Linked DNA regions of Homo sapiens. The protein of the gene in region 6 interacts with the protein of the main gene of each other region in a biochemical or structural test. Each region holds a gene or a part of one and is shown on either strand. Other genes may lie near its edges. The genes, in order: RUNX1, ITCH, NEDD4L, UBA1, HERC5, UBE2L6 and UBA6.

Evidence for each region.
Region 1: the proteins of UBE2L6 (region 6) and RUNX1 form a complex in vitro, tested with the Homo sapiens proteins (one study listed by BioGRID).
Region 2: the proteins of UBE2L6 (region 6) and ITCH interact in a test that uses a peptide from one of them, tested with the Homo sapiens proteins (one large-scale study listed by BioGRID and IntAct).
Region 3: the proteins of UBE2L6 (region 6) and NEDD4L form a complex in vitro, tested with the Homo sapiens proteins (one study listed by BioGRID).
Region 4: of the proteins of UBE2L6 (region 6) and UBA1, one has a biochemical effect on the other in vitro, tested with the Homo sapiens proteins (2 studies listed by BioGRID).
Region 5: the proteins of UBE2L6 (region 6) and HERC5 form a complex in vitro, tested with the Homo sapiens proteins (one study listed by BioGRID).
Region 7: of the proteins of UBE2L6 (region 6) and UBA6, one has a biochemical effect on the other in vitro, tested with the Homo sapiens proteins (one study listed by BioGRID).

Annotation. Positions count from the first base shown.
Region 1 is NC_000021.9:34,829,303-34,832,802, reverse strand, and holds part of RUNX1 (runt-related transcription factor 1), read left to right. Parts: intron 1-3,500.
Region 2 is NC_000020.11:34,366,273-34,369,772, reverse strand, and holds part of ITCH (E3 ubiquitin-protein ligase Itchy homolog), read right to left. Parts: intron 380-3,500; 5' UTR 303-379; intron 1-302. UniProt on the Homo sapiens protein: Acts as an Acts as an E3 ubiquitin-protein ligase which accepts ubiquitin from an E2 ubiquitin-conjugating enzyme in the form of a thioester and then directly transfers the ubiquitin to targeted substrates.
Region 3 is NC_000018.10:58,047,226-58,050,725, forward strand, and holds part of NEDD4L (E3 ubiquitin-protein ligase NEDD4-like), read left to right. Parts: exon of another isoform or gene 1-285; intron 286-3,500. UniProt on the Homo sapiens protein: E3 ubiquitin-protein ligase that mediates the polyubiquitination of lysine and cysteine residues on target proteins and is thereby implicated in the regulation of various signaling pathways including autophagy, innate immunity or DNA repair.
Region 4 is NC_000023.11:47,210,829-47,213,228, reverse strand, and holds part of UBA1 (ubiquitin-like modifier-activating enzyme 1), read right to left. Parts: intron 2,388-2,400; coding exon 2,313-2,387; intron 2,194-2,312; coding exon 2,004-2,193; intron 806-2,003; coding exon 717-805; intron 459-716; coding exon 366-458; intron 240-365; coding exon 48-239; intron 1-47. UniProt on the Homo sapiens protein: Catalyzes the first step in ubiquitin conjugation to mark cellular proteins for degradation through the ubiquitin-proteasome system.
Region 5 is NC_000004.12:88,467,119-88,470,618, reverse strand, and holds part of HERC5 (E3 ISG15--protein ligase HERC5), read right to left. Parts: coding exon 3,415-3,500; intron 2,989-3,414; exon of another isoform or gene 2,913-2,988; intron 2,274-2,912; coding exon 2,197-2,273; intron 1,463-2,196; coding exon 1,359-1,462; intron 6-1,358; coding exon 1-5.
Region 6 is NC_000011.10:57,551,162-57,554,417, forward strand, and holds the end of UBE2L6 (ubiquitin/ISG15-conjugating enzyme E2 L6), read right to left. Parts: intron 1,349-3,256; coding exon 1,197-1,348; 3' UTR 501-1,196; downstream 1-500. UniProt on the Homo sapiens protein: Catalyzes the covalent attachment of ubiquitin or ISG15 to other proteins. Functions in the E6/E6-AP-induced ubiquitination of p53/TP53. Promotes ubiquitination and subsequent proteasomal degradation of FLT3.
Region 7 is NC_000004.12:67,621,156-67,624,655, forward strand, and holds part of UBA6 (ubiquitin-like modifier-activating enzyme 6), read right to left. Parts: intron 3,099-3,500; coding exon 2,971-3,098; intron 2,068-2,970; coding exon 1,980-2,067; intron 1,771-1,979; coding exon 1,676-1,770; intron 1-1,675. UniProt on the Homo sapiens protein: Activates ubiquitin by first adenylating its C-terminal glycine residue with ATP, and thereafter linking this residue to the side chain of a cysteine residue in E1, yielding a ubiquitin-E1 thioester and free AMP.

The DNA.
Region 1 (3,500 bases), on a different chromosome or scaffold from region 6:
TAATAATCATTAATAATGATTTAAAATGTGTACATTGATTTTTTTTAAATTCCAAAATACAAGCGTATATGGTAAATTAAGTCAAATGGTATGTTCAGTGAGCGAGATGGGCTTGGGGCAAAACAATACTTTGCTTCCAAAGAGGATACAACTCTCAAGGAGATTCTTTCATCTTGCCTTTAAGGTCATTTAAACTAATTCACATAATCTTCAGAAAACTAATTCACATCATCTATTCATGTGTAAAATCAAAAGGAAGACTGTTTTCTTAGTCTCTCGTTGCCTAACTGGCCATTTATACTACTAGGTTGATTAAGGGATTTGCCTTTTTCTGCTGATATGGGAACAAAAAGTCTTAAGCATTTTTAAAGGCAATGGAAAATTCAGCCACATGGGGGAAAATTGATATTGTCACCATTGAGTTGCTCTGTTTCTTGGTGAAGAGTGAATCTAATCTGATTTCCTTCTTCATCAGATATGCCTCTTTAACAACAAAAACAAAAAAATGGGGGGAAGTTGCACATTGAGTTCTCATCCTCTGAAGCTCCTGGGCAAAAGCATTATTGTGGACCGTGTGATGGGCATTCGTCAGCTCTTTGGAGACCTATATGCTTAGTAGAGTATCAGGTTTAACACTAAGCATCGCCCCTTTTTTGTTCCTCTTGAAAACTTTTACTTCTGCAACATTTAAGAAATCATAACTCGCTTTTAGAGTTCCTACGGGCTTGGTTGCTACTCTAAAGAATGTGTGAACTATATTGCTGGTGTTCTTTCTTTCCAAAATATGAATTTGATATTCAGTACTTCACTTGTAAAATTTTAGGAACAACTTTTAAAAAATAAGTATCCAGAATATTTTCATGTGAAACAACTTTTCCTTTTCCTTTTGTTCTTTCTTTCCTATAAGAAAACGCTGTTTTACGCTAATCATGTTTTGAGTAGACCCTTGGGCTTTTTCTCTTGAAATTGGAAAGTTAACAGGTATAATATGCAAGTCTTGTTCAGCCAAGACCTTCAGTTTGTTCTTGACAGTAGGAAAATGCTTATTTTCCAGGCTCAGCCCTGAAATTTCTATGTTATATTTACGAAGATACTTTAAGAAATACAGCATGTGTTTCTGGCTTTCTTTGAAATGGCAGTGGTAGTTTTCAGAAAAATATCCAATTTGTCAGAGTAGTTCCACAGTGGTGCTGTCCAGATGCATGAATGTTTTTCAGCTTTACAGAAATGTCAGTAACCGGGGGTTTGGCGAGCTTGCCGGGATTTATAGAAAGGCTCAGGAACCCTACCTTGCTAGGACTTTGTCAGAAGGGTTATGCCAGCTCCTCTGACTCTGTCAGCAAGAAAATACTGATATAGAATAGCACCAATACTTACCTAGAATCACATGTGCTGGAGGGTCACTCAAAATAGACATCTCAAATTATCTGAAGCACGGTACAGATTGAGAGGGGGCAAGTTGTCATGCCACTAAACCACTGTTTATTTGTTGGGGTCTTAACTATTAAAGGGCTGAGGTTTATTTCAACTTCCTATTTTACCAGGTCTTAAACTGGTAAAGCCATTTTGTCATGAAATAGAATAGAAAGCCATTTTGTCATGAGTAGACCCTTGGGCTACACGTTTCTCCCAGTCAGGACACCATCATTAACTTCTACGATCGAGTCTTAGAATTCTTTTTTAATTTATTTCAAAAGATAGAACAGGGCAGATTCTAGAGCTAGTGGTACCGATGCCTGTTCAGTCACAACTCCCACCTAGAGATGGGTTTGGGCAACCCGAGTGAGTGATTTTAAAATTTCACCCCTGATTGACCAAATATGATGTATCACATTTAAGGTGTCGTAATTTCCTCCTTTCTGGGAATATGAGGATGGAGTAATAGATGCTGGTACAGAAAACTGAAACCTAGATAAACTAGGAAGCCCATTTTGTTGTTCTTCTGCATGCTGGTTGTCATAAGCATGTAGGAAGAAGATTTAACTCTTTAACTGGACCAGTTGTGAGCTATTTTGACGTGGGTCAGACATTTGTACATATTATTCCATTCCCTCAACAATCCTGTGGTATCATTTATAGACAGAGAAATCGAAATTCAGAGGTTAAAAATTGCCCAGTATCTCAAAGATTGTAAGTGATGAACTTGGACGCAAACCCAGACCTTCCTTGCTACAAAGCCAGTGCAAGTGGGATGGCCGTTCCCTGGGCGTGCACTCTTGGGTCAAGGATCGATTTACTACAGGGCTGACCAGTGTCGAGAAGAATCCCAATCACCAAAGGAGGGATGGAAAAAGTGTTGGGCTATCCACTCACTTGGCATTCTTGTATTGAACATGTTCTATTATAATTAGATGTTGATAATAAGAAGAATTTTGGGGCCAGGCTGTGTGGTGGGCACCTTAATAAACTGTCTCCTTTGGTACATGTGCATTTGTTTATAAAGTTTGGGAGAAAAGAAAACTCAGAATAATGAATCTCTAAATAAGAGTGAAAGAGGGGGTATATGAGCAGGGAGAAGGCTTACCAGCCACTCTGTTTACTTTATTGGGGCCATTGCCTTCCTACTTTTGAAGTTCATTGGGACCAAGTGCTTATCATCCAAACCCAGTCAACATCTAATCCACTTTTATGAGTATGCGTGCCTCACTTTGAGTGTTCCATATGGCCAAGAGGGGTCCCTGACCTCTCAAATCATCTCTTGATTTTTAGTATTCCAAGTAACTTCTGTCTTGCTAATTATTTTCCCCCAAAATTAAAGTTACTTAGGAAGGACTATATTCTGGTGCTGCTGTCTGCAAAACTCTGAGATACTGAAATGACCCTGTTTCTCAGTTGTATAGAGTTATTTAAGTCCGTCTGATTCTCTCTTTATCATCTGGATAGACAAAAGGAAGAAAACCTTTCCACCTTCCTGTAGGAGAAGGAGATAAATCCTCTTTCCAGCCTTGGAGGTAAAATATCCAACTGCATTGCATTGCTTTCCTTTCTCTCTCCCTCTCCTTCCCTCTCTTCCTTACTCTTCTAGCAATTTGAAGTTTGAAAACAAAGGGAGTAGGGACTATTTGATTACCTTGAAAGTGGAGGCTACAATCAAACACCAGAAATCCTCATATGTGAATCTATAAATGGTCATTTAATGGTTACACAAAGTAACATATTCAGAATGTGAGAAATTAATTTATATAATAGGCTATAAACATGACAGGTGAATGATTTCATTTAAAAATAGCTTTTAACAAGGTGTAGTAGGGTATGAGAGCCTTTCCAGGTCTATAGCATTATAATCTTACCCCGACAACAAGCCTGAATCAGGTGTTCACAGGAATAAATAAAAATAATTAAAGGAAAGAAGGGAGAGAGAGAGAAGAAATGAAAACCAGTGGGATGACTGCAGAGATTCACTGCAGGGCTTGATCTTAGTGATGAAATATTTCTTCTGTAGACTGCATATGTTCTGAACTTTCCCCTTATGCTTGTAAATATGTAGGCCAGCACACCCA
Region 2 (3,500 bases), on a different chromosome or scaffold from region 6:
GTCTAGATAGTATACAGAGATAAACGTGTATAAAACAACACAAATAGAAAAAGTATGCATATGTATAAGGGATCTACAAAAACAGAAAAGTCAGAAAACCCAAATTAAGAGCACAGTGTGGCTCACAGGCTAATCCCTGCAGAGGCAGCTTTGGGTTTCAGAACCAAGTGAAGCTGCCTATATGTTCAACCAACTGATGCAGCTAGCATCAACACTGCTCTCTCCTCACAGCAGGTATAAGACCAGAGCTTGGCCTCTGCATCACTCTTGCCCCCAATTTCTCTCACAGGATGACACCATACCTGAAGTTCTCACAGTTTGAGTCACTTCCTTGGGTTAAGGCGTTGTCTCCACAAGGCCACCGTGAAATGCATGGTACCTGAGAAAGGAAGGAGAGTCCATTAACACATTACTTCTATATTTTTTTGTTTGTTTGTTTTTGAGATGGAGTCTTGCTCTGTCGCCAGGCTAGAGTGCAGTGGCATGATATTGGCTCACTCCAACCTTCGCCTCCTGGGTTCAAGCGATTCTTCTGCCTCAGCCTCCTGAGTAGCTGGGACTACACTACGGGCGTGCACCCCCACGCCTGGCTAACTTTCGTATTTTTAGTAGAGATGGGGTTTCACCATATTGGTCAGGCTGGTCTTGAACTCCTGACCTCGTGATCCACCCACCTCAGCCTCCCAAAGTGCTGGGATTACAGGCGTGAGCCACCACACCCAGCTGACCTCTATAGTTAAACACATCAGATCTGCAACGACCTTGCGACTCTAAAAGCACAAAGTCTCTTTTAAAAATTTCATGGGATAGACAATTTTTAATGGAGCAGACAGGACAAAAGAAAGAACTGAGGGAAAATGATTCATACGTATTATGGGAAGACACCAATCTGAGTATGACGGCTATCTGGCAAAATGAGGATGGCCATATAAATACACCAGCCTATAAGGGTCACCATAATGATAGTCCCTGCAACTTGGAGACTCCTAGGGACAGGAAAAGAAAACGCACACCAAGGATCTGGATATAGTCAGTTCTGAAAAGAAGCAAAAAAGCTGAGCTGGCAGCAGTTTTTCAAGGACAGTACACTGCTAGACTGGAGGAGGATAGAGGCAGGAACAGCTTCTGGTTAACTGCTTCTAGTTGTGAGGATAGTTTCCAACTTAACGTTTTTAGCTGAAAGCCAACCTCCCAACCAGAGAATGCTGCAATTCAATTCTGTGAACCCCCTAACTAATTTATATTGACTCAAAGCCAGTATCATTTACAGCCATAAAAGTCAACATGCCTTTACTGAGTGCTTATTATGAGCCCAGAATTTGGCTAAGTACTATAAATACAAAAAAAAAAACCTTACATACTTTTGTCTTAATTCTTATAAAGGAAACCAATGTCCAAAACCCAAAACAGAGACTTAGGCAACAAGAAAGAAAGTGGCAAAACAACAAAACAGATGACTATTTCCTATCAGTACTAACACGAATTTTTTTTTTTTTTTCTTTTGAGACAGAGTCTCATTCTTGTTGCCAGGCTGGAGTGCAGTGGCACAATCTCAGCTCACTGCAACCTCCGCCTCCCAGGTTCAAGTGGTTCTCCTGCCTCAGCCTCCCAAGTAGCTGGTACTACAGGTGCATGCCACCACACCCAGCTAATTTTTTGTATTTTAGTAGAGATGGGGGTTTCACCACGTTGGCCAGGATGATCTCGATCTCCTGACCTCGTGATCTGCCCGCTTCAGCCTCCCAAAATGCTGGGATTACAGGCATGAGCCACCGCGCCCGGCCCTAACACAAATTTCTTAAGACAGAATGAATATAACAAAACTTACTTCTAGGCCAAAATTCCTTGTTAAACTCTTGCCTAAACAGTCAAGACGCATAGGCTAAAAATCTCCCTTTTCTTTTTCTAGTCTAATACCAGAAGCTCTTCAGTAGTGCACATTGATCTTTGTAAACCAGAGAATACCAGTCCCAGAGTTGCAAAACCCAGTTCTAGTTCTAGTTCTTACTCTTAACTAGTTTCAGGTAAATTATTTAACCTTTAAAACAAACAAACAACAACAAAACAGAAAACTAAGAGATTGGACTTATCTAAGAATAGCATATATTTGGCACATGTCTACTACCTACTAGGTAACTGTCCACAGGAGACATCATTGATCAACCATAATACAATTTCTCAGAGCACCTACAACCAGAATCCTTCCAAACACAGTGCTTCTGGCAGCTTCCAATTAGAGCTGGCCAATAAACCAAAATATATTTGCCATTATGGACTAGATAATCTCTGTAACTTCTCCCAACTCTAAAACTCAATGAGCAAGTTTCTACAGGCTGAGAGAAAAACACTCCCAACAAGCCTAGATCAATACTTTTTAGAGGCATAAATTTCAGTCCAAACTCCAAGTTCTAAATTAGCCAGGCTTGGTGGCATGCACCTCTAATTCCAGCTACTTGGGAGGCAGCTACTTGGGAGGCTGAGGCACACGAATCGCTTGAACCCGGGAGGTGGAGGTTGCAGTGAGCCGAGATCACATCACTGCACTCCAGCCTGCATGGCCGAGCAAGACTCCATCTCAAAAATAGTAACAATAACAAACTTCAAGTTCTCTTCCAAATTACACCTGACATAGTTCTTTCTAATTTCTCAAAGATGCTAATGAACAATTCACTCTCATACTATACATAACATATATAACCTGGCAATATTATTCAGACTTGCTAATGGGTTCTTTTGACAGAAAAGGAGCCCTTTACCCAGATTAGCTCTAAAAAAAAATCCTCATCTAGAAATATGGCAACAATATTGCACTAGTAAAAAGCTAAATCCAATCCTTTGATCATCCCCACAACCTCTCTCCAAGGTCAGGCTTTGTCATTTCTCAACTAGACTTCTGCAATAGCTAGTCCCTCATCCTTTCGCTCATCACCAGAGCAATCTTTCTTTTTTTGTTTTTTGATACCTATCTTTGTCCTGCAGTACACAGCAATTTTCTAAAACACATATGTACTCACATCATTTCCCTGTCGAAAAATCTGCATCTATTTCTTTTTTTTTTCCTTCCTTTTGGTAAAGACGGGATATCACCATGTTGCCCAGGCTGGTCTCAAACTCCTGAGCTCAAGCGATTCACCCGCCTCAGCCTCCCAAACTGTTGAGATTACAGGTGTGAGGCACTGAGCCCAGCCCTGTATCTATTTCTACCAACATAAAATTCCAAATTTTTAGCATTATACTTAAAATTTTTAGCCAGAGCACAGTAGCTTACACCTGTAATCCCAACACTTTAGGAGGCCAAGGTGGGAGGACCACTTGAACACAGGAGTTAAGACCAGACTGGGCAACGTAAAGAGAACCTTTCTCTACAAAAAAATTTTAAAAATTAGCCAGGCATGCTAATGCATGCCTGTTGTCCCAGCTACTCAGGGAGGCTGGGGTGGGAAGATCACTTGAGCTCTGGAGGTCCTGTCACTGCACTCCATCCTGCGTGACTGGGTGAG
Region 3 (3,500 bases), on a different chromosome or scaffold from region 6:
ATTTTGACCGCTATTTAGAAGAGTGACCTCATAAATCTTTTAGCAAAGTAGACACACATACCTACCACATTTCTTAAAAGTAGATTCGTATTTTGATTTGAGATTGTTGAAAAGCATGGTATGTTTGGAGTGCACTTAGTTATGTCCCATCTCATAAAGACTGTTGAGCTCTCTGCACTGCTGATGATGAAGCATTGCATGAACCCAGAAAACGGGGATGCCAAAGCACAGGGCTTAGGTGCTGTTCCTTGCGTCATCAGCAGAGGTCTGTCCACTTTGTAGAAGGTAAGGGGTTGAGATGTGGGCTTTGCTTGTGTGAATGTATGTGCTGTTTAATTTTTTCTGTGTGTTTCGGGCGGAGGTTTCTCTGGTGAGTTATAATTCATATTTACCCTGATTTAAGTCATGTCACTTTAGGTAGCCAGATTCAAAACCATCAGATGAAGGACTTTTGGTGTTAGAGGGATTAGCAGTTTAACAAAACTTCTGATTCATGGCCCAAGATCAGATTTGGTTTGGAATCAGAACACTTTGGACTAGTTTCTGCATCTGGCTTGAGTCCTTGTGGATTTCTTGTTTTATTTCTTTATTTTTGGCAATCTGTAGTGCATTTTGGCATAGTTTACTTATGAATGTTACCGCTAACTTTCTGAAATCTTTTATTCCATTTTAGAAAGGTATCATTTATTGAAAAGATTTTTCTACTGAACAAAATACTGGGATTGAATGGCAGCTTCTTATCACATTAGATATGACATTAAGTAATTTCGTTAGTAGTTAAAATGAAGCAAATGGCATAGAAATGAAGGCCAGGCTGACATAGGATAAATGGCACCTTCTCTCCTTATCCTGTACAAACACGGATAGTTGGCTACTTTTGAATGCCTCTTCTATACCAATGGTAAAAATCCGGCTTAATTGGGGCCACATTCTAGCCTAGTCACAATCAGTGGCTTGCATTATGTCCTTTGAGATGTGGCAGATCTGCTTATAGGTGCCAGTCACCACGGCTCCCTGCTGGCTTGGGGGTCTTTCTACTCATTTACATATAATTATCTACTTCTTAATCAACCATTAAGGTTAACTTTTGGCATGGATCCTGTATGCTTTTCAGTTTAAGATGCTGTCACTTTTAAGATGCGCCATGAGAGCAAAGTGCTAAGCCTTGTGCACATACTATGTCATTTAGTTCTCATGAGAACTGTGTGAGGTAGGCTGTGATTTACAGATGAGGAATGAAAGCTCAAAGAGGTTACGTGACCTGCATAAGGACACAAAACAAGTTAAGTTATGGAGCCAGCTATTTTGAATAGAAAGGCCTAGTTTTTAACATGCTGAATATCCTCCCCTTCTGACAAATGCCTTGAAAGGTCTTACTATCTAGATTATTTAAGATAATGTAAGAGAAATAAACACCACTGGTTGCAAACTGATGGCTGCTGGGCCCGATTTGACCAGGAACCCTGCTTAATGTGGTCTCTAGAGTGTTTTAAAGCTTGGAAATTTCATGAAAATGGTAAAAATCTGGCTTAATTGGGGCCACATTCTAACCTAGTTACAGTCAGTGGCTGGCATTATGTCCTTTGAGATGTGGCAGCTAGTTGTGCTATGGTTGCAGTCACCACTACTTTCTGTTGTCTTAGGGGTCTTTCTACTTGTTTACATATAATTATCCACTTCATAACAAACCTTTAAGGCTAACCTTTGGCGTGGATGCCATATTTCTTTCACTTTAGTGTGCTGTCACTTTTAAGATATGCCATTATTTCATGTACCACGAAGAAAAAATTGCTGTCAAGTTATGACATACTGTCCATCTTATGAAGCATCCTTATTTCAGAGAAGTTGAAATATGAGAAAAAGGATATTTTAGAATTGATGAATTACAGTGACTAGAAACCTGGGAAAACTCCATGCCATCAGTTTCAATATCCCCAATCATTCAGTACTTTTAAGTCAACGAGTAGTCAGATTTCTGCTTTTCTGTGTTTGAGGAAAGTGCTAGAAAAAGAGAAGTGCTCTTAAATAGGCATTAGCACAGAAGGAACTGGGGGCCTAGATCATAGCCAACTGGATGGCCGTCTGTAAGTGATTAAGAATAGTTGTTAGTTTTTAAAAAGTGGCCTGTGTGTATTTTCAAGAGATTACTTGGGAAACCCTATGTGCCATCTTTGCAGCTGTGCAAAACGGTGAGGACAAGATTGCTTTCAAAAATTGTGGTTTAGATTTTGCTTGGATCTCAAGGTGAATGCTGACAGGCCGTTTTCTGAAGAGAGAGAAGGCTTGCCCAGTCATGCCAAGTCCAAGTGCCTGTGTCGGGCCTAGATGCTGGATGGTAGACTGTATACCCAGGACATATAGGTAATGTTTGAGAAACAAATGTTAAAAGGACCTAGTTTTCATGGTGACATTTAAAATCAGTTTTTAAAATTCATGAATATAACATGTTGTTTTAAAATTTGATTATAGGGACCGGGTGCAGTGATCACTCCTGTAATCCTAGCATTTTGGGAGGCCGAGGCAGGAGAATCACTTGAGTTCAGGAGTTTGAGGCCAGGCTGGGCAACGTGGTGAAACCCCGTCTCTACAAAAAATAGAAAAGTTAGCCAAACATGGCGGCACGTGCCTGTAGTCCCAGCTACTTGGGAGGCTGAGGTGGAAGGATCACTTAAACCTGGAGGCAGAGGTTGCAGTGAGCCAAGATCATGCCACTGCACTCTAGCCTGGGCGACAGAGTGAGACCCTGTCTCCAAAAAAAAAAAAAAAAAAAAAAAGACTAATGAATAGAATTTATTTTCTTCAATGATGTAGTGTCTGTGGAATTTGTAGACATTGACATTTGAATTTTCATTATATTTAGTTTTATTAAATCAGAATGTTATGATTGTTTATTTCATTATTGAACATCAGTTTCCTTAATTTAAGGAATAAAAATAATTTTGCTCAGGCCAGACATAGTGGCTCACATCTGTAATCCCAGCACGTTGGAGGCCAAGGCTGGTGGATCACTTGAGGTCAGGAGTTTGAGACCAGCCCAGCCAACATGGTGAAACCCTGTCTCTACAAAATAAATAAATAAATAAATGAAAAAAAAATCAGCTGGGTGTGGTGGTGGACACCTGTAATCCCAGCTACTCTGGAGGCTGAGGCAGGAGAATAGCTTGAACCCTGAAGGCAGAGATTGCAGTGAGCCGAGATCGCACCACTGCACTCCAGACTGGGTGACAGAGTGAGACTCTGTCACAATAATAACAGGCTGGGGCAGTGGCTCATGCCCGTAATCCCAGCACTTTGGGAGGCCGAGGCTGGAGGATCACCTGAGGTCAGGAGTTTGAGACCAGCCTGGCCAACATGGTGAAACTCCGTCTTTACTAAAAATACAAAAATTAGCTGGGCTTGGTGGCAGGCAACTGTAATCCCAGTTACTCGGGAGGCTGAGGCAGGAGAATTGCTTGAACCTGGGAGGCAGAGGTTGCAGTGAGACAAGTTCGGGCCATTGT
Region 4 (2,400 bases), on a different chromosome or scaffold from region 6:
ACACAGATACACCCCACCCAAACCCTGCTTCGGATGCAGGCCCCCACCTGGTGACGTGGTGCGGCAAGGGGTTCAGAGAAACCAAAGAAAGGCAGGGCCAAGTTGAGGAAACCATTCTTGTAGGAGTCAAGCTGTCGGTGCCCCTGCACAACCTTGTACAGCTCCAGACACACAAGGCCAACCACGGCTGCTGTGGTCGTGGCAATGGCTGGGATGATCTTCCCTGCAATCAGCTTGCTCTGAGAGACAGAAGGGACAAAAGAAGGTGGTAGTTAAGTACAAGAGCCTCAGGGTCTACAGAGGGGCTAAGTGTGGGTAACTCAAACCTGGAGGAGGGTGGAACATCAGATTTAGATTCCCCTCACCTTGTGCCGGTCTGCAGAAGGAATGTCATAGTTTTCTGCCCGGAGGTTGGATGCAGCCACGATGAAATCCATATGAAAGTTGCTGTCATCATCCTGTTATGAGTGGGGAGGGTGTGAAGGCAGTGGGGAGAGGATCAGATAAAGAAGATGTGTATCCTCCACTGCAATTGCCTGCTGGACTCTCCCAGATCACAAAGGGATGGCTGGGAACACCTACTCATTCAGAGCCATATGGCAGGCCCACAATCTGATCCCCACAAAGGCCCGGGGCTGGCTCCAGATACTCCTGTTTTCTCCAGCCTGTCTATGCTTTGCCCATCCTCCTTCCCTGTCCTGAGCCCCACCCCATACCTTCTCAAAGTCAATGGGGTACATCTTGAATCCAGGGAGCTTGTCTGGGCTGGGCAGAGTGGCTTTGAGCTCCTCTAGACGACTGTCATCTGCATGAAGAAAGGGACACTGTCAGCCCTTTAGATCCCAGGCTAAGGTCTGAGATGGAAATGAGAGCCCAGGGTGGGGCAAAAGGTATTCAGGTACAAAAAGGATTTGGAAAGGAGAGACATCCTGGGAGAGAAAAGGGGCAAGGAGGAGAGGTAGAGCAGAGCAGAATACAAACCTGAAAAACACAGAGAAAGAGCTGAGGCTATCAAGAATGATCTCTCTAGAGACACTAAGGAACGGAAATGAAAATGTTAGGAGAAAGTGGAGATGGAGAGATCAAGATGGGAGACGTAAAGATCTTGGGAAGAATGATGTAGAGCAAGATGGGGGGAACACAGAGGATACAGGGAGGAAAAGGGGAGTAAAAAAGATATATGGAGGGGAAGTTGGGGGGAATACACAGATGTGGACATAGAGGAAAGATATGGGGGGAGATGGAGAAGATATAAAAGGGGGAGAGTGGGGGTATATACAGAGGGCGAGGCAGGTGGGAGGAGAAAGATGGAAGAAATATATGAAGGTGATGAGAGCTATGGAAGGAAAGATTGGAAGACATACATAAAGGAACATGAAGGAGTAGACATTTCAGAAGGAAGATGGGGACCATGGAAGGGGAAATGGGAGGAGATCTATGGAGAGGAAGACGGGGGAGATATAAGGAAGGTAAATGTAGGGGGCGTTACAGAGCTACAGAAGCATCATATACAGAAGGGAGGGGTGGTGAAAAAATATGCAGATGGGGTGGGGTGGGGGTGTCAGTAAACCGCAGCCCCAAACTATGGAGGGTGAAGATGCACAGAGAAACATGCAGGTAGATGTACAGATGGGGGCGGATCTGGAAGGAGACAAGGCAGGAAAGTATCAAGGGAGAGAGACTGCTGGTAGAGATCATACCTCCTAGATGAACAGATCAAGAAGAAACAGAAGAAAGAACAAAACTAAGGGAAATACACAGAGCAAGAGTAAAACAGCAAGTTCTCCTGAGGGCCAGATAGTGGGAAGGAGGAGGAGGGAGGGAGATAATTTGCCCCAACCTACCCTCTTCATGTCAAAGGGAGGCTCAAAGGAAGGTGTGGGTAAACCTCAGGCCTGGGGTCACAGAGCAGAGCAGAACCAGGGGTAGAGGACTGGTGGGGAGGCTGGACTAGGCCGGGGACATGTGGGGTGACTCCTGGCCAACTGGCCAAACACCCTCACCAACAGAGGCATTGGCGCTCTGCAGCTCCTGGTCAGAAACATGGATCTTGACGCCAGACTTGGGGGTGAATTCGGGGACCTGCACAGACTGCAGGAATGTGGCCACAGCAGCTCGGTCCTGAGAGCCTGTCAGCCCGTAGGTCTGGGCAAACAGGTTGGCAGCAGCCATCACATAGTCCAGATGCAGGGGCTAGGAGAAGGCAGGGCAGGGAAGGGTGAGCACATCAGCCCTCGAGTGGGGAGCCGCCACCTCCTTCCCACCTATTCACCCTCCACCTGACCCCAGAAGACCCTAGAAAGGAGACTTACATTGTTGACATCAAAGGTGAGCGGGTGTGGACAGCGTTTGGGCCCAGACCAGAACGGCGCTCCTGAGCTTGTGAGCTAAGGGATGGAG
Region 5 (3,500 bases), on a different chromosome or scaffold from region 6:
TTTCCCTATATTAGTAATAAGACACTGGTTAAACCAAATCACATGGTATACATACATACAGCCTCTTTCTTTACAGCATGAGACATGATAAATACCACATCTTATAACTATCCTTCCAACCTCTCCATTTGTCTCCTATCTGTATGCATATTACCTTGGCTTGGCTTCTAAAAGTCCATTCTGTTTGGTAAATCTCAAAATTTCAGTGGCAAACATGGGAAATAAAAAAGTTTATACATACTCAGAGAAGCCTCAAATAAAGAGGAAAGGCTTGATTTATGGTCAGAACTTTCTTGAACAAACAAAATACTCCCACCCCACCAACTATGCAAGTCCTATTTATTTCTATTCCACTGAAGTAGAAATAAATTACCAGAAATTAAATGGGGGAAGGAGTATGCTCAGTTTCATCTTAGAAGTAGTTGTACAGTTCTTAATTATTTATGCTCTGCAAATTATGATGCAACTATTTTGTGCAACTACTTTGTACAATCATTTTCCAGAATTAGAAAGCCATACCTAAAAATATTTCTAAAAGATGATGTTTGTAAGAATAGGTAGGAGTTCTGTAAACCTATAGGAGTTCTATGGTTTAGAGAAGAATGGTACAAATTGTTCAGCTAAGAATAACAGGTACACAAACTAATGGTTCCAGGATCAAATGGGACTGGGAAACACTATAGACTCTATTTTCTGGCCAGAGAGTCACAATATACATAAACAGAGGCCTGGAGAAGCCCTACAGTAAAGAAAGCTGTCCTCATGGCGCTTACATGCTAGTTGTGATGGGTTAGTTTTATATGTCAACTTGGCTAGGCCATGGTACCAAGATATTTGGTCAAATATTATTCTGGATGTTTCTATGAAAGTATTTTTTTAGATGAGATTAACATTTAAAATGGTAAACTGAGTAAAGCACTTGAACAAGTGAATAAAAAGAAAGGACCTTCCATAATGTGAGTGAGCCTCATCCAGTTGAAGGCCTTAAGAGAAAAGGCTGAGGTCACCCAAAGAAGAGGAAATTCTGCTTTTAGATTGCCTTCAGACTTGAGCTGCAACATCAACTCCTCCCCAAGTCTCCAGCCTGCTGGCCTGCCCTACAGATTTTGGACTTGCCAGCCCCTACAATCTCATAAGCCAATTCCTTAAAATAATCTCTCTCTCTCCCCTCCATAGATACATAGATGGACAGACAGACATGATAGAGATAAAGATAGAGACAGAAATACACACATATCCTATGAGTTTGTTTCTCTGGAAAACCCTGACTACAAAATCTCATATTGCTGTGCAGAACCAGTTTGGGAAATGATACTTGAGAGTGATATATAAGCAGAGAGTCAGACTGTGGGGTGTACCTTTTTGTGCTCTGCCACCGTTTAGTCTCCACATCAGCAATCCATCTCTTTACAGTCCCTTCATTCAGAGTAGGAATTGTCCTCTTCAGATTAACATATGAATTCTGTAAACAAACAGGAAAGTAAAATACAATAATTTAGACACATCAGAGATAGGCACCCAACTTTTAGGTACACTCTAGAGAGTAAAACTGACTTTTAAATATGTGTAATACAGCCCTGGGACAATCACAAAGTGATACTCAACAAATAAGTAATCAATCATTTGCCTGGTTGCCACTTTCTTGTCCAAGGGGGCTTAGACTGAAAGTAAATTTCTTTGAGGACTCAACACTCAGCACTTTATACAAATACAATCAAATTAAACTGAACATCAGACAGCCTTGAAGGGAAGGGAAGATCCTGAAAGAGCTGTGTGCAGAAGTGTGAGGAACTCGATTTCACTTGGTGAAGTAGGGCAGGGAAGTTATGGACTTTTTATTTGCAAGCCCATGAACCTTGGTGTCTTTCTTAGTACTGGCCTGCAAAGTCATTTTTAGAATCTGTCACTCTGTTGTTTGCAAGGATACTGACCAAACATCATTGGCAAGTAGCCCCCAAAAGGTAAGTATAGCCTATGGAAATCACACTGATTAGACATTCACCAGAGAAAAATCTGCTGATTTTTGTGGGAAAATACTGATGTAGTTTAGACAATAAAGGATCAGTAATGTCCAGCTATCCCCCAAAAAGTCAGCCTGGTAAACTGATGATTTTGGAATTCACCAAACTGGGATACTAGAACCCTTAGTTTTGCTTAAAATACCAGGTTATAGAACACCTGGAGATCTATTTTTACCTCTTTCTTTATCCAGAGCAAAATGCTTTGATTCCCTCCAGCAATCATTATTAACTCCTTTTCTGAGGTATGGCTTTCTGAAAGGATGCACAAAGAGTAAGAGTTTTAGAAAGTCATTTGGCACAAACATGCATGTTCAATTTAAATAACTTCAGATTCTTCTTAAACGTAGTCATCTTTTCTTCTTAATAGACAAAACTTAGTACATTTTCTGCCAATTAAGCAGCTGAAATACATATCCTTTGGAGTAAAGTCTAGTTGGCAAACATAGGTAATTCACAAGGTGGACATGTGACATCAGTTTAATATACATAATACAAATATTTATATATAAAATGCAAATATTTGATTAGCTAAATGTTATCAGTTTAATTCAACTCCCATTACTAAAAACCATGTTTTCAAGATTTAAGCAATGACTGCTGGCTATAAAGAATATAAGTACTTTAAGCCCATGTAACTGTTATAAGGAATCAAAGATAATACATGCTGCTTAAGGAAATAACTCTGTTCGTTTTCCTACAAGAAATGAGTAGATTTTGTTACTTGAGGTCACCACTAAGCTTTCAGAAACAAGTAACAGAAATGCTCCAAGGTGCTTCTACAATGGAGTGTTTCAGAGCTCAGACTCTGAGGTCATAAAGGGCACGGGTTCAACTCCAGACAAACCACTTACTGGCCATGATTAAGTGGCTAACCCTTTTCTCTCCAAGTCTCTTTATCCTCCAGTAAAAGAGGAGTGACAGAATACACCTCCCAGGAACTGTTACAAGGATTGGTGAGATAACACAAGTAAGTGCTGAGCACAGTTCAGTGCCAGGTATACGTTGATTGCTCATTATTCTGAGGGTTTTATATGACTGTGGATCAACTTAACCAGGGCAACCAGCCAATTACAAGAATTAGTAAACAACTAATTACAAGAATTAGTAAGTCTCTTGCAAACTGGAATGAGAGCTGCATATGCCTCTGAATCCATTGTCTATTTTATCATTTAAATTCACATTAATCCTAATCTGAAGGAGTAATATAGAATAATTATTTTGCCTCAGTAAATTAGACTGACTCTTGAATTGTTTACCAGTAAAAAATGAAACCAGTATTTAGAGAAACTCCCTTCATAGTCATATGTTGCTTTCTTTGCCACATTACCTAGTTAGAAAAATCATTTTCTCTAAAAAGATACTATGCCAAACCCTATGTTCCTATAGAATTTACCAAGTTTGAGTTCTTCACTTGATGATACTTTCACTGGAAGCGGCATCAGCTGGTCACGTGTTCCACCATTTCCCAGTTGTCCATCT
Region 6 (3,256 bases):
AATCCCAGCACTTTGGGAGGCTGAGGCGGGTGGATCACCTGAGGTCAGGAGTTCGAGACCAGCCTGGCCAATGTGGTGAAACCCCATCTTTACTAAAAATACAAAAATTAGCCAGGCGTGGTGGCGGGCATCTGTAATCCCAGTTACTCAAGAGACTGAGGCAGGAGAATCGCTTGAACTCAGGAGGCGGAGGTTGCAGTGAGCCGAGATTGCACTGCTGCACTCTAGCCTGGGCGACGGAGTGAGATTCTGTCTTAAATAAATAAATAAATAAATAAATAAATAAATAAATAAAATAAAATGGGGACGTCACCCCTGTGGACCTTCTGAAAGCTCCTCTGTCCAAGGATGGCCTATTTTTCCATGGCCAACATTCCTTATGATGTTTAGGGAACATTCAAGGGAAGCAAGGTCAGAAATTTATGCTTAAATCCCTAGTCCTCTATGGTCCTGATGAAACCACCCCATCCCCTCATCAAAGACTCAGCTGCACTCCAGAATTCATCTCTGACTTTAATGGCTTAAGCAAGAACATGGTTTCCGTGGCTCCCCCTGGACTGAATGCTGGAGGATATATACTTCACAGTCTGAGGCCTGGTCCCAGGAACTGGCAATCTAACAGGATGGCAAGTGGTTTTGAAACATATAGATTTTCAGGATGGAAGTTTGATTCTTCAGATTGTGACTCATCCGTGGAAAATAAATGGTTTAGCACCTAAATCTGTATATTCCCATCAGTGGCTTGGCTGACTCAGTTGTAAATAGGGTACCCTCCATCTGTCTCCCACCCATATGCTCCACTGTCCCCAGGCCCTCAGTGCCTGAGCCCTAGGGGGATTCGAGTTGGCTGCTGGATTCATTTCCTGCAAGCAGGCCTGCAAGGTGACCTGTCTCTCTAAGATGGAGAGCTGGAGAACTGGCCTGTAACTGCAAACTTAAACTCCCTTGGCTCTGGGGAATGTAAAGGGTGTGGGAAGGGTGCACCTGTGGCCAGGTGAACCTGGGAGTGAGTCCATACACAACACACACACTCATAGCTCCCTTCCCTCCACCACACACACACACAAACTAATGACTAACAACCTAAGAAGGGAAAAATGAATGGGGAATGGGCCACAGGGGGCTCTGGCCTCAGTCCATGAGGTGTGTCCGTCCGCTATGCCGAGGATCCAGTGCACAGAGGGTCAGAACATGAGTTAGGAGGGCCGGTCCACTCCGAATCGGAGGGTGAACTCTTCGGCATTCTTTCTGAACAGCTCCGGATTCTGTGTCAGCAGGTCAGCGAGGTCCATCCGCAGGGGCTCCCTGATATTCGGTCTATTCACCAGCACATTGAGGGCCTCCAGGACTGGGGAGAGACAGGCCAGATCAGGATATCAGGGCAGAGGGAAGGGAGTCATGGCTGCCCGTTCCCAATGTCCTGACACTCCACACTCACTCCTTGGGGGAAAGGTTACATCGCTTAGGATTACTCTACGACCAGATCAAACGCCCCGCTCATTCTTGGCTGGTGACACCCAAGGCCTTGACTGATTACATCAGTGGTTTTCAAACAACTACATTCCATGGCTTCAGAGAAGCTCCTCATCACAGGGGCCACTGAGATAAGTGAGGTTTCTGGGTCTTATCCCCATTTCAACAAAAACTGCTCTGTTTTCCTCCATTATATTGGTAGTCCAAATAAACTTTTCCTTGGGCAAAAGAGGTCTAAGGCTAAAGACTGAAAACCACCACTGCCCCCTGGCTCTTCATCTTTCACAGATGCCTTTGGGAACCTAGTGAAGGCAGCAGCCCATCTCCCGAGACAGATGTGCACATCCACATGCAAAACAGACAGTTCCCAGACCCCCTGAAGCTCATCCAAGGACCACTCCTCTCCCTGCTCCCACTCCCACCAACCTAAGGACTTTCATTTCCTGAGTTAAAAACTCCTGAGCTGGTCCAGGTGGAGGATTGCACACTGATTCAGCCACAGGCTCTAGAGCTGTGTTGTTCAATATGGTAGCCATTAGCCACATGCAGGCATCTAAATTTAAATGAATTAAAATCAGGCTGGGCACGGTGGCTCACGCCTGTAATCCCACCACTTTGGGAGGCCAAGATGGGTGGATGGCTTGAACTCACGAGTTTGAGACCAGCCTGGGCAATATGGCAAAACCTGGTATCTACAAAGCATGCAAAAATTAGCCAGGTATAGTGGCATGCTCCTGTAGTCCCAGTTACTCGGGAGGCTGAGGTGGGAGGATGGCTTGAGCCCAGGAGGTGGAGGTTGCAGTGAGCCAAGATTGCGCCACTGAACTAACTGCCTGGGCAATAGAGACAGACCGTGTCTCAGTAGAAAAAACAAAAAGGATTAAAATTAAGTACAATTAAGAATTGAGTTCTGGCCAGGCGCAGTGACTCACACCTGTAATCCCAGCACTCTGGGAGGCGGAGGCAGGCGGATCGCCTGAGGTCAGGAGTTCGAGACCAGCCTGGCTAACATGGCAAAACCCCTCTCTATTAAAAATACAAAATAGCTGGGTGTGGTGTCATACGCCTGTAATTCCAGCTATTCAAGAAGCTGAGGCCGGAGAATCGCTTGAACCTGGGAGGTGGAGGTTGCAGTGAGCCAAGATCGCGCCACTGCACTCCAGCCTAGGCGACAGAGCGAGACTCTGTCTTAAAAAAGAAAAAGAATTGAGTTCTTCAGTTGCAACAGCCACATGTGGCTTGCGAGTCAGCCAAGTGCTGCCGTTTGTCATCTGTATGACCTTAGGCAACCACTTCACCTCTCACATGCCTCAGATGTCCGGGTCTACTAAACAACACTACCTCACGGGCTTGTTGGGGAAATAAAAATGAAGTCGGCAGGTGATGTTTTTAGCACAGTGCCGAAAGTGCTCAGTCAAGTGACAGGTATTATCATTATGAGGCCAGTTCCCTCCACTGTCATTTAGGACACCGAGTCCCAGAAAGGAACGAAAACTTGCCCAAAGTCCACAGAGGGAACAGCGGGCTTTCTTTTCCCGAGCCCTTCCCTGTGCAGCCAAGCTGCCTCTCCCATGAACCGCAGCAACGTTCCTCTGTCACAACTGCACAGGTATAAGAAGAGAGGCAGGAGGAGGTCAGTCTGTCCAGGAAGCATCCCTTCTATCTCATAGTAAGTTCAGCCAAGACTCACAATTTTTATCTCCTCTCTTTGGGGCTTTTCAAGCTCAGAATAAGCTGTGAACCCCCTCTCCAGTAATCTCTACCCAGTATCAGTCCCTCCTCC
Region 7 (3,500 bases), on a different chromosome or scaffold from region 6:
ACACTAGCCTTGCTTGATCCAAAAGATACTGAGGGATCCTAATGAAAAATAATATAAGGCAAATTAATGCCTTAGCTAATAAAATAGTAGTTTTACTTTTTAAGGTACAGATAATTCAGACTAGATCATAATTTAAGAATGATTAACCTCAACTGATTATCATAGTTAAAGCCAATAGATACGTTAAACACAACCATCATGCAGAGATTCATTTACTAGTCTGACAAATATTTGTTGGTAACCTTTTATTTGCCAGGTATTGATCTAAGTGCTTGAGATACAACAGTGACAAGATCAAATAAAGATTCCCACTCTTGTGAAATATATGTTCTAGTAGCAGGTAAATAGCTAATATACAGTACATGGGCCGGGCACAGTGGCTCACGCCTGTAATCCCAGCACTTTGGGAGGCTGAGGCGGGAGAAATCACCTTAGGTCAGGAGTTCAAGACCAGCCTGGCCAACATGGTGAAATCCGTCTCTACTAAAAATACAAAAATTAGCCAGGTGTGGTGTTGGGTGCCTGTCATCCCAGCTATACTCGGGAGGCTGAGGCAGGAGAATCGCTTGAACTCAGGAGGCAGAGGTTGCAGTGAGCTGAGATCGCGCCACTGCAATCCAGCCTAGGCGACACAGTGAGACTCCGTCTCAAAAACAAACAAACAATAAATATAAGCAAAATACACAGCAGCACAGCAGTCATAGGACAGTAATAAGTGCTCTGAAAAAAAGAAAAAGTAGAGAAGAGTAAAGGGGACTAGACATACTAGACTGGGGCTGAGGACAGGTTGCAGTATTAAATGAGGCCTCTTTAGGAAGTGCAAAGACCAGGGGTGAGACTTGGCCAGGTCACTGTCTCAGAGTTACAAGCAGAGGGAACAACTAAAGCAAAGGTCCCATGCTGGAGCATGATTAGAGTGAGTATTCAAGGACAAATAAGGAGGCCAGTGTAGCTGGAATATTGTGAAGGGAAAGTAAGGAAGGAACTTAGAAGGATAACTAGGAATCTAAATTTAGAGTCTTGCAGACCACGATAAAGACTTTAGCTTTCTTTGGTTCTTTCTTCCTTTCAGTCTCTGCTCAAATTCCACCTTAACAGGTGAGACTATGATAGGCAAAGGGAAAACCTAGACTACTCAGTATAATATAGCAACTCAACACCCCCAACTCCCCATATTTCCTTTTCTCTTTATTCTTCTTTAATTTCTCCATAATACTTACTATCACCTAACATACTTGCCTTATTGTTATGCAAACTCCTTAAGTAGGAAAGAACTTTGGTTTGCTAACTGCTATCTCCCTAATGACTAGAATAGTACCTGGCACACAGCTGGCACCTTAAACAATAATTTGTTGAATAAATGAACAAAAATAGTGATTTGGCAGTTAGATTACTCATAAGCCTGGTCATTAAGTGTCTCAACATAAGAGACGGATCCACTTTTACTTAAGTGTACTGGCCAAATCAGGTTTCTAAACCTATTAACTGAAGAGCTGAATCTCTCGAGAGGTAGCCTGTTGGCCTTCACCTGGCAGATTCACTGTCTTTATTAATGTCATTAGACAAGACTAATGCTTTTATCTGAATTATAGTAACCTCTATATTTAATTTTTTAGTGTGCATCAACTTACATTTAAATTCTTGTTAATCGCTGCATATAATGTTGAATACTTACGTTAACTTCAATCTTTTTGCATGACCAGGCATTACAGGAACATAAAGCATTTTGACTCCCTGTACCACCATTGTTGGCTCAATTCCATACTTCTCCTAAAAGTGAATATCCAAAAAAGAAACAATGAAAGCCTCGCTCAAACATAAAATGCTTATTTAACATTGTTCGTAAACAATGTTTTATGACCAGTAAAAAAAGCAAATTCATGGTAAATAATTATAACTTCCAATAAAATTATAAATAAAAACAAAACAGAAACCAGACATAAAGCTACTAATGAACTAAATGAACAAAAGTATCTCACTTTGACTGCATTTATGAAATCCAAGAGGGTGAAATCTTCTTTTCCATGTACGGTCCATCGATCCCAAATTGTAAATGATATTCCATTTCTGTTACAGAAAAATATTCAGAACAGAAACATTGAAATTTTCTTCCTTTTAGTGATGACACACACACAAAAAAAACCCACTTTCAGAAGTCCATTATTTGTGATCAGGCTAGAAATTAATGTGGGGAAATAAAGGATAATATATCTTCTAAAATATTCCATAATCTTATTTCTTCATCACATCATATAGATAACCACTTTTAATCAGTACCTTGCTGATCCTTCCAGTGTATTATAAATCAGTATGTTTTAGCAAGACAGTGTTGTCTCTCTCTTTTTAAAATGGGTTTCACTGTGTGGATGTTCCAGTACCCCATTACTGGACACTTCGGTTATTCTAATCATTGGCCACGATAAATAATGCCAGAATAATTATCTTGCAAATATATAGTTTGAGACTTGTGCAAATGTATCTGAAATATAGTGCTATATATCCCTTACTGTGGATTATAGTATTTTGTACTCTCATTAGTAATGTATGAGAGTGTCTGCTTTCTCACACCCTTGTTAAGGTAGGTTTTTTTTCAAGTTTTTGGTTGTTGCCAATCTGAAAACTAAAAAGTACAGGCCCAGGAATTGTTCTGCTTTGTCTCAAGCTTGTGGAATTCTTCTAAATCTCATGACCTACAGTCAGACACCAGGGTACCTTCTAATTCATCTGGCAGACACAGATGAAACCATAATGCCAAATAATGTGGCAGATAAAGTGCTGTAAGGGTTCTTTGGCTACTTTAGTCAGAAATATTTAATGAAGATGAGGTTTGAGCTGATCTTGAAGTGATGGCAAAAATTTACACATACACAATAGAAGAAAAAAGAGGTGAAGCTAGTATTTTTCCCTTTTAAAAGGTAAAATATTTTATTTCATTCTCATTATACAAGAGAAATAGACTTTCATACATACCTGATTTTAGTTTTCCTTACTTCAGTTGTCTCTGTAAATACTACAATTGGAATGGCTAAGTTAAGAAAACAATTTTTGTAAGCTTCAAATGGATAGCCACCAGTTACTTTGATCATCTCCAAGGCAACCTAGATAAAAGAAGGTGATCTGATAATATAAACAGCCTAAAACTATCCGTGATTTTAATTGCATCTATTCAACTTTCACGTTTTCAAGCATTTCTCTGTGGATAGTAAAAGCAGCTATGGGACTATAGTAATATAAATTTCTTATTACAGGTCTGTATACTTTTAGTATATTTTATACTTTCAAACTTTCAACCTACTCTATACATGTTAACAGTTATTTAAAAAAATATTAATTCAACCATACAGTCTCCCTATTTTGAAAGCACATGCTGTAACTCAAAAAATAACAACAGTCTAAAATCACTTAATACAGGGGTAAATAACTACATAGCTTCATAGATAATTACATAGAGTAATGATGTAATATGGTATAATAACTAGGGCCGCACTTAAAGATTCTGA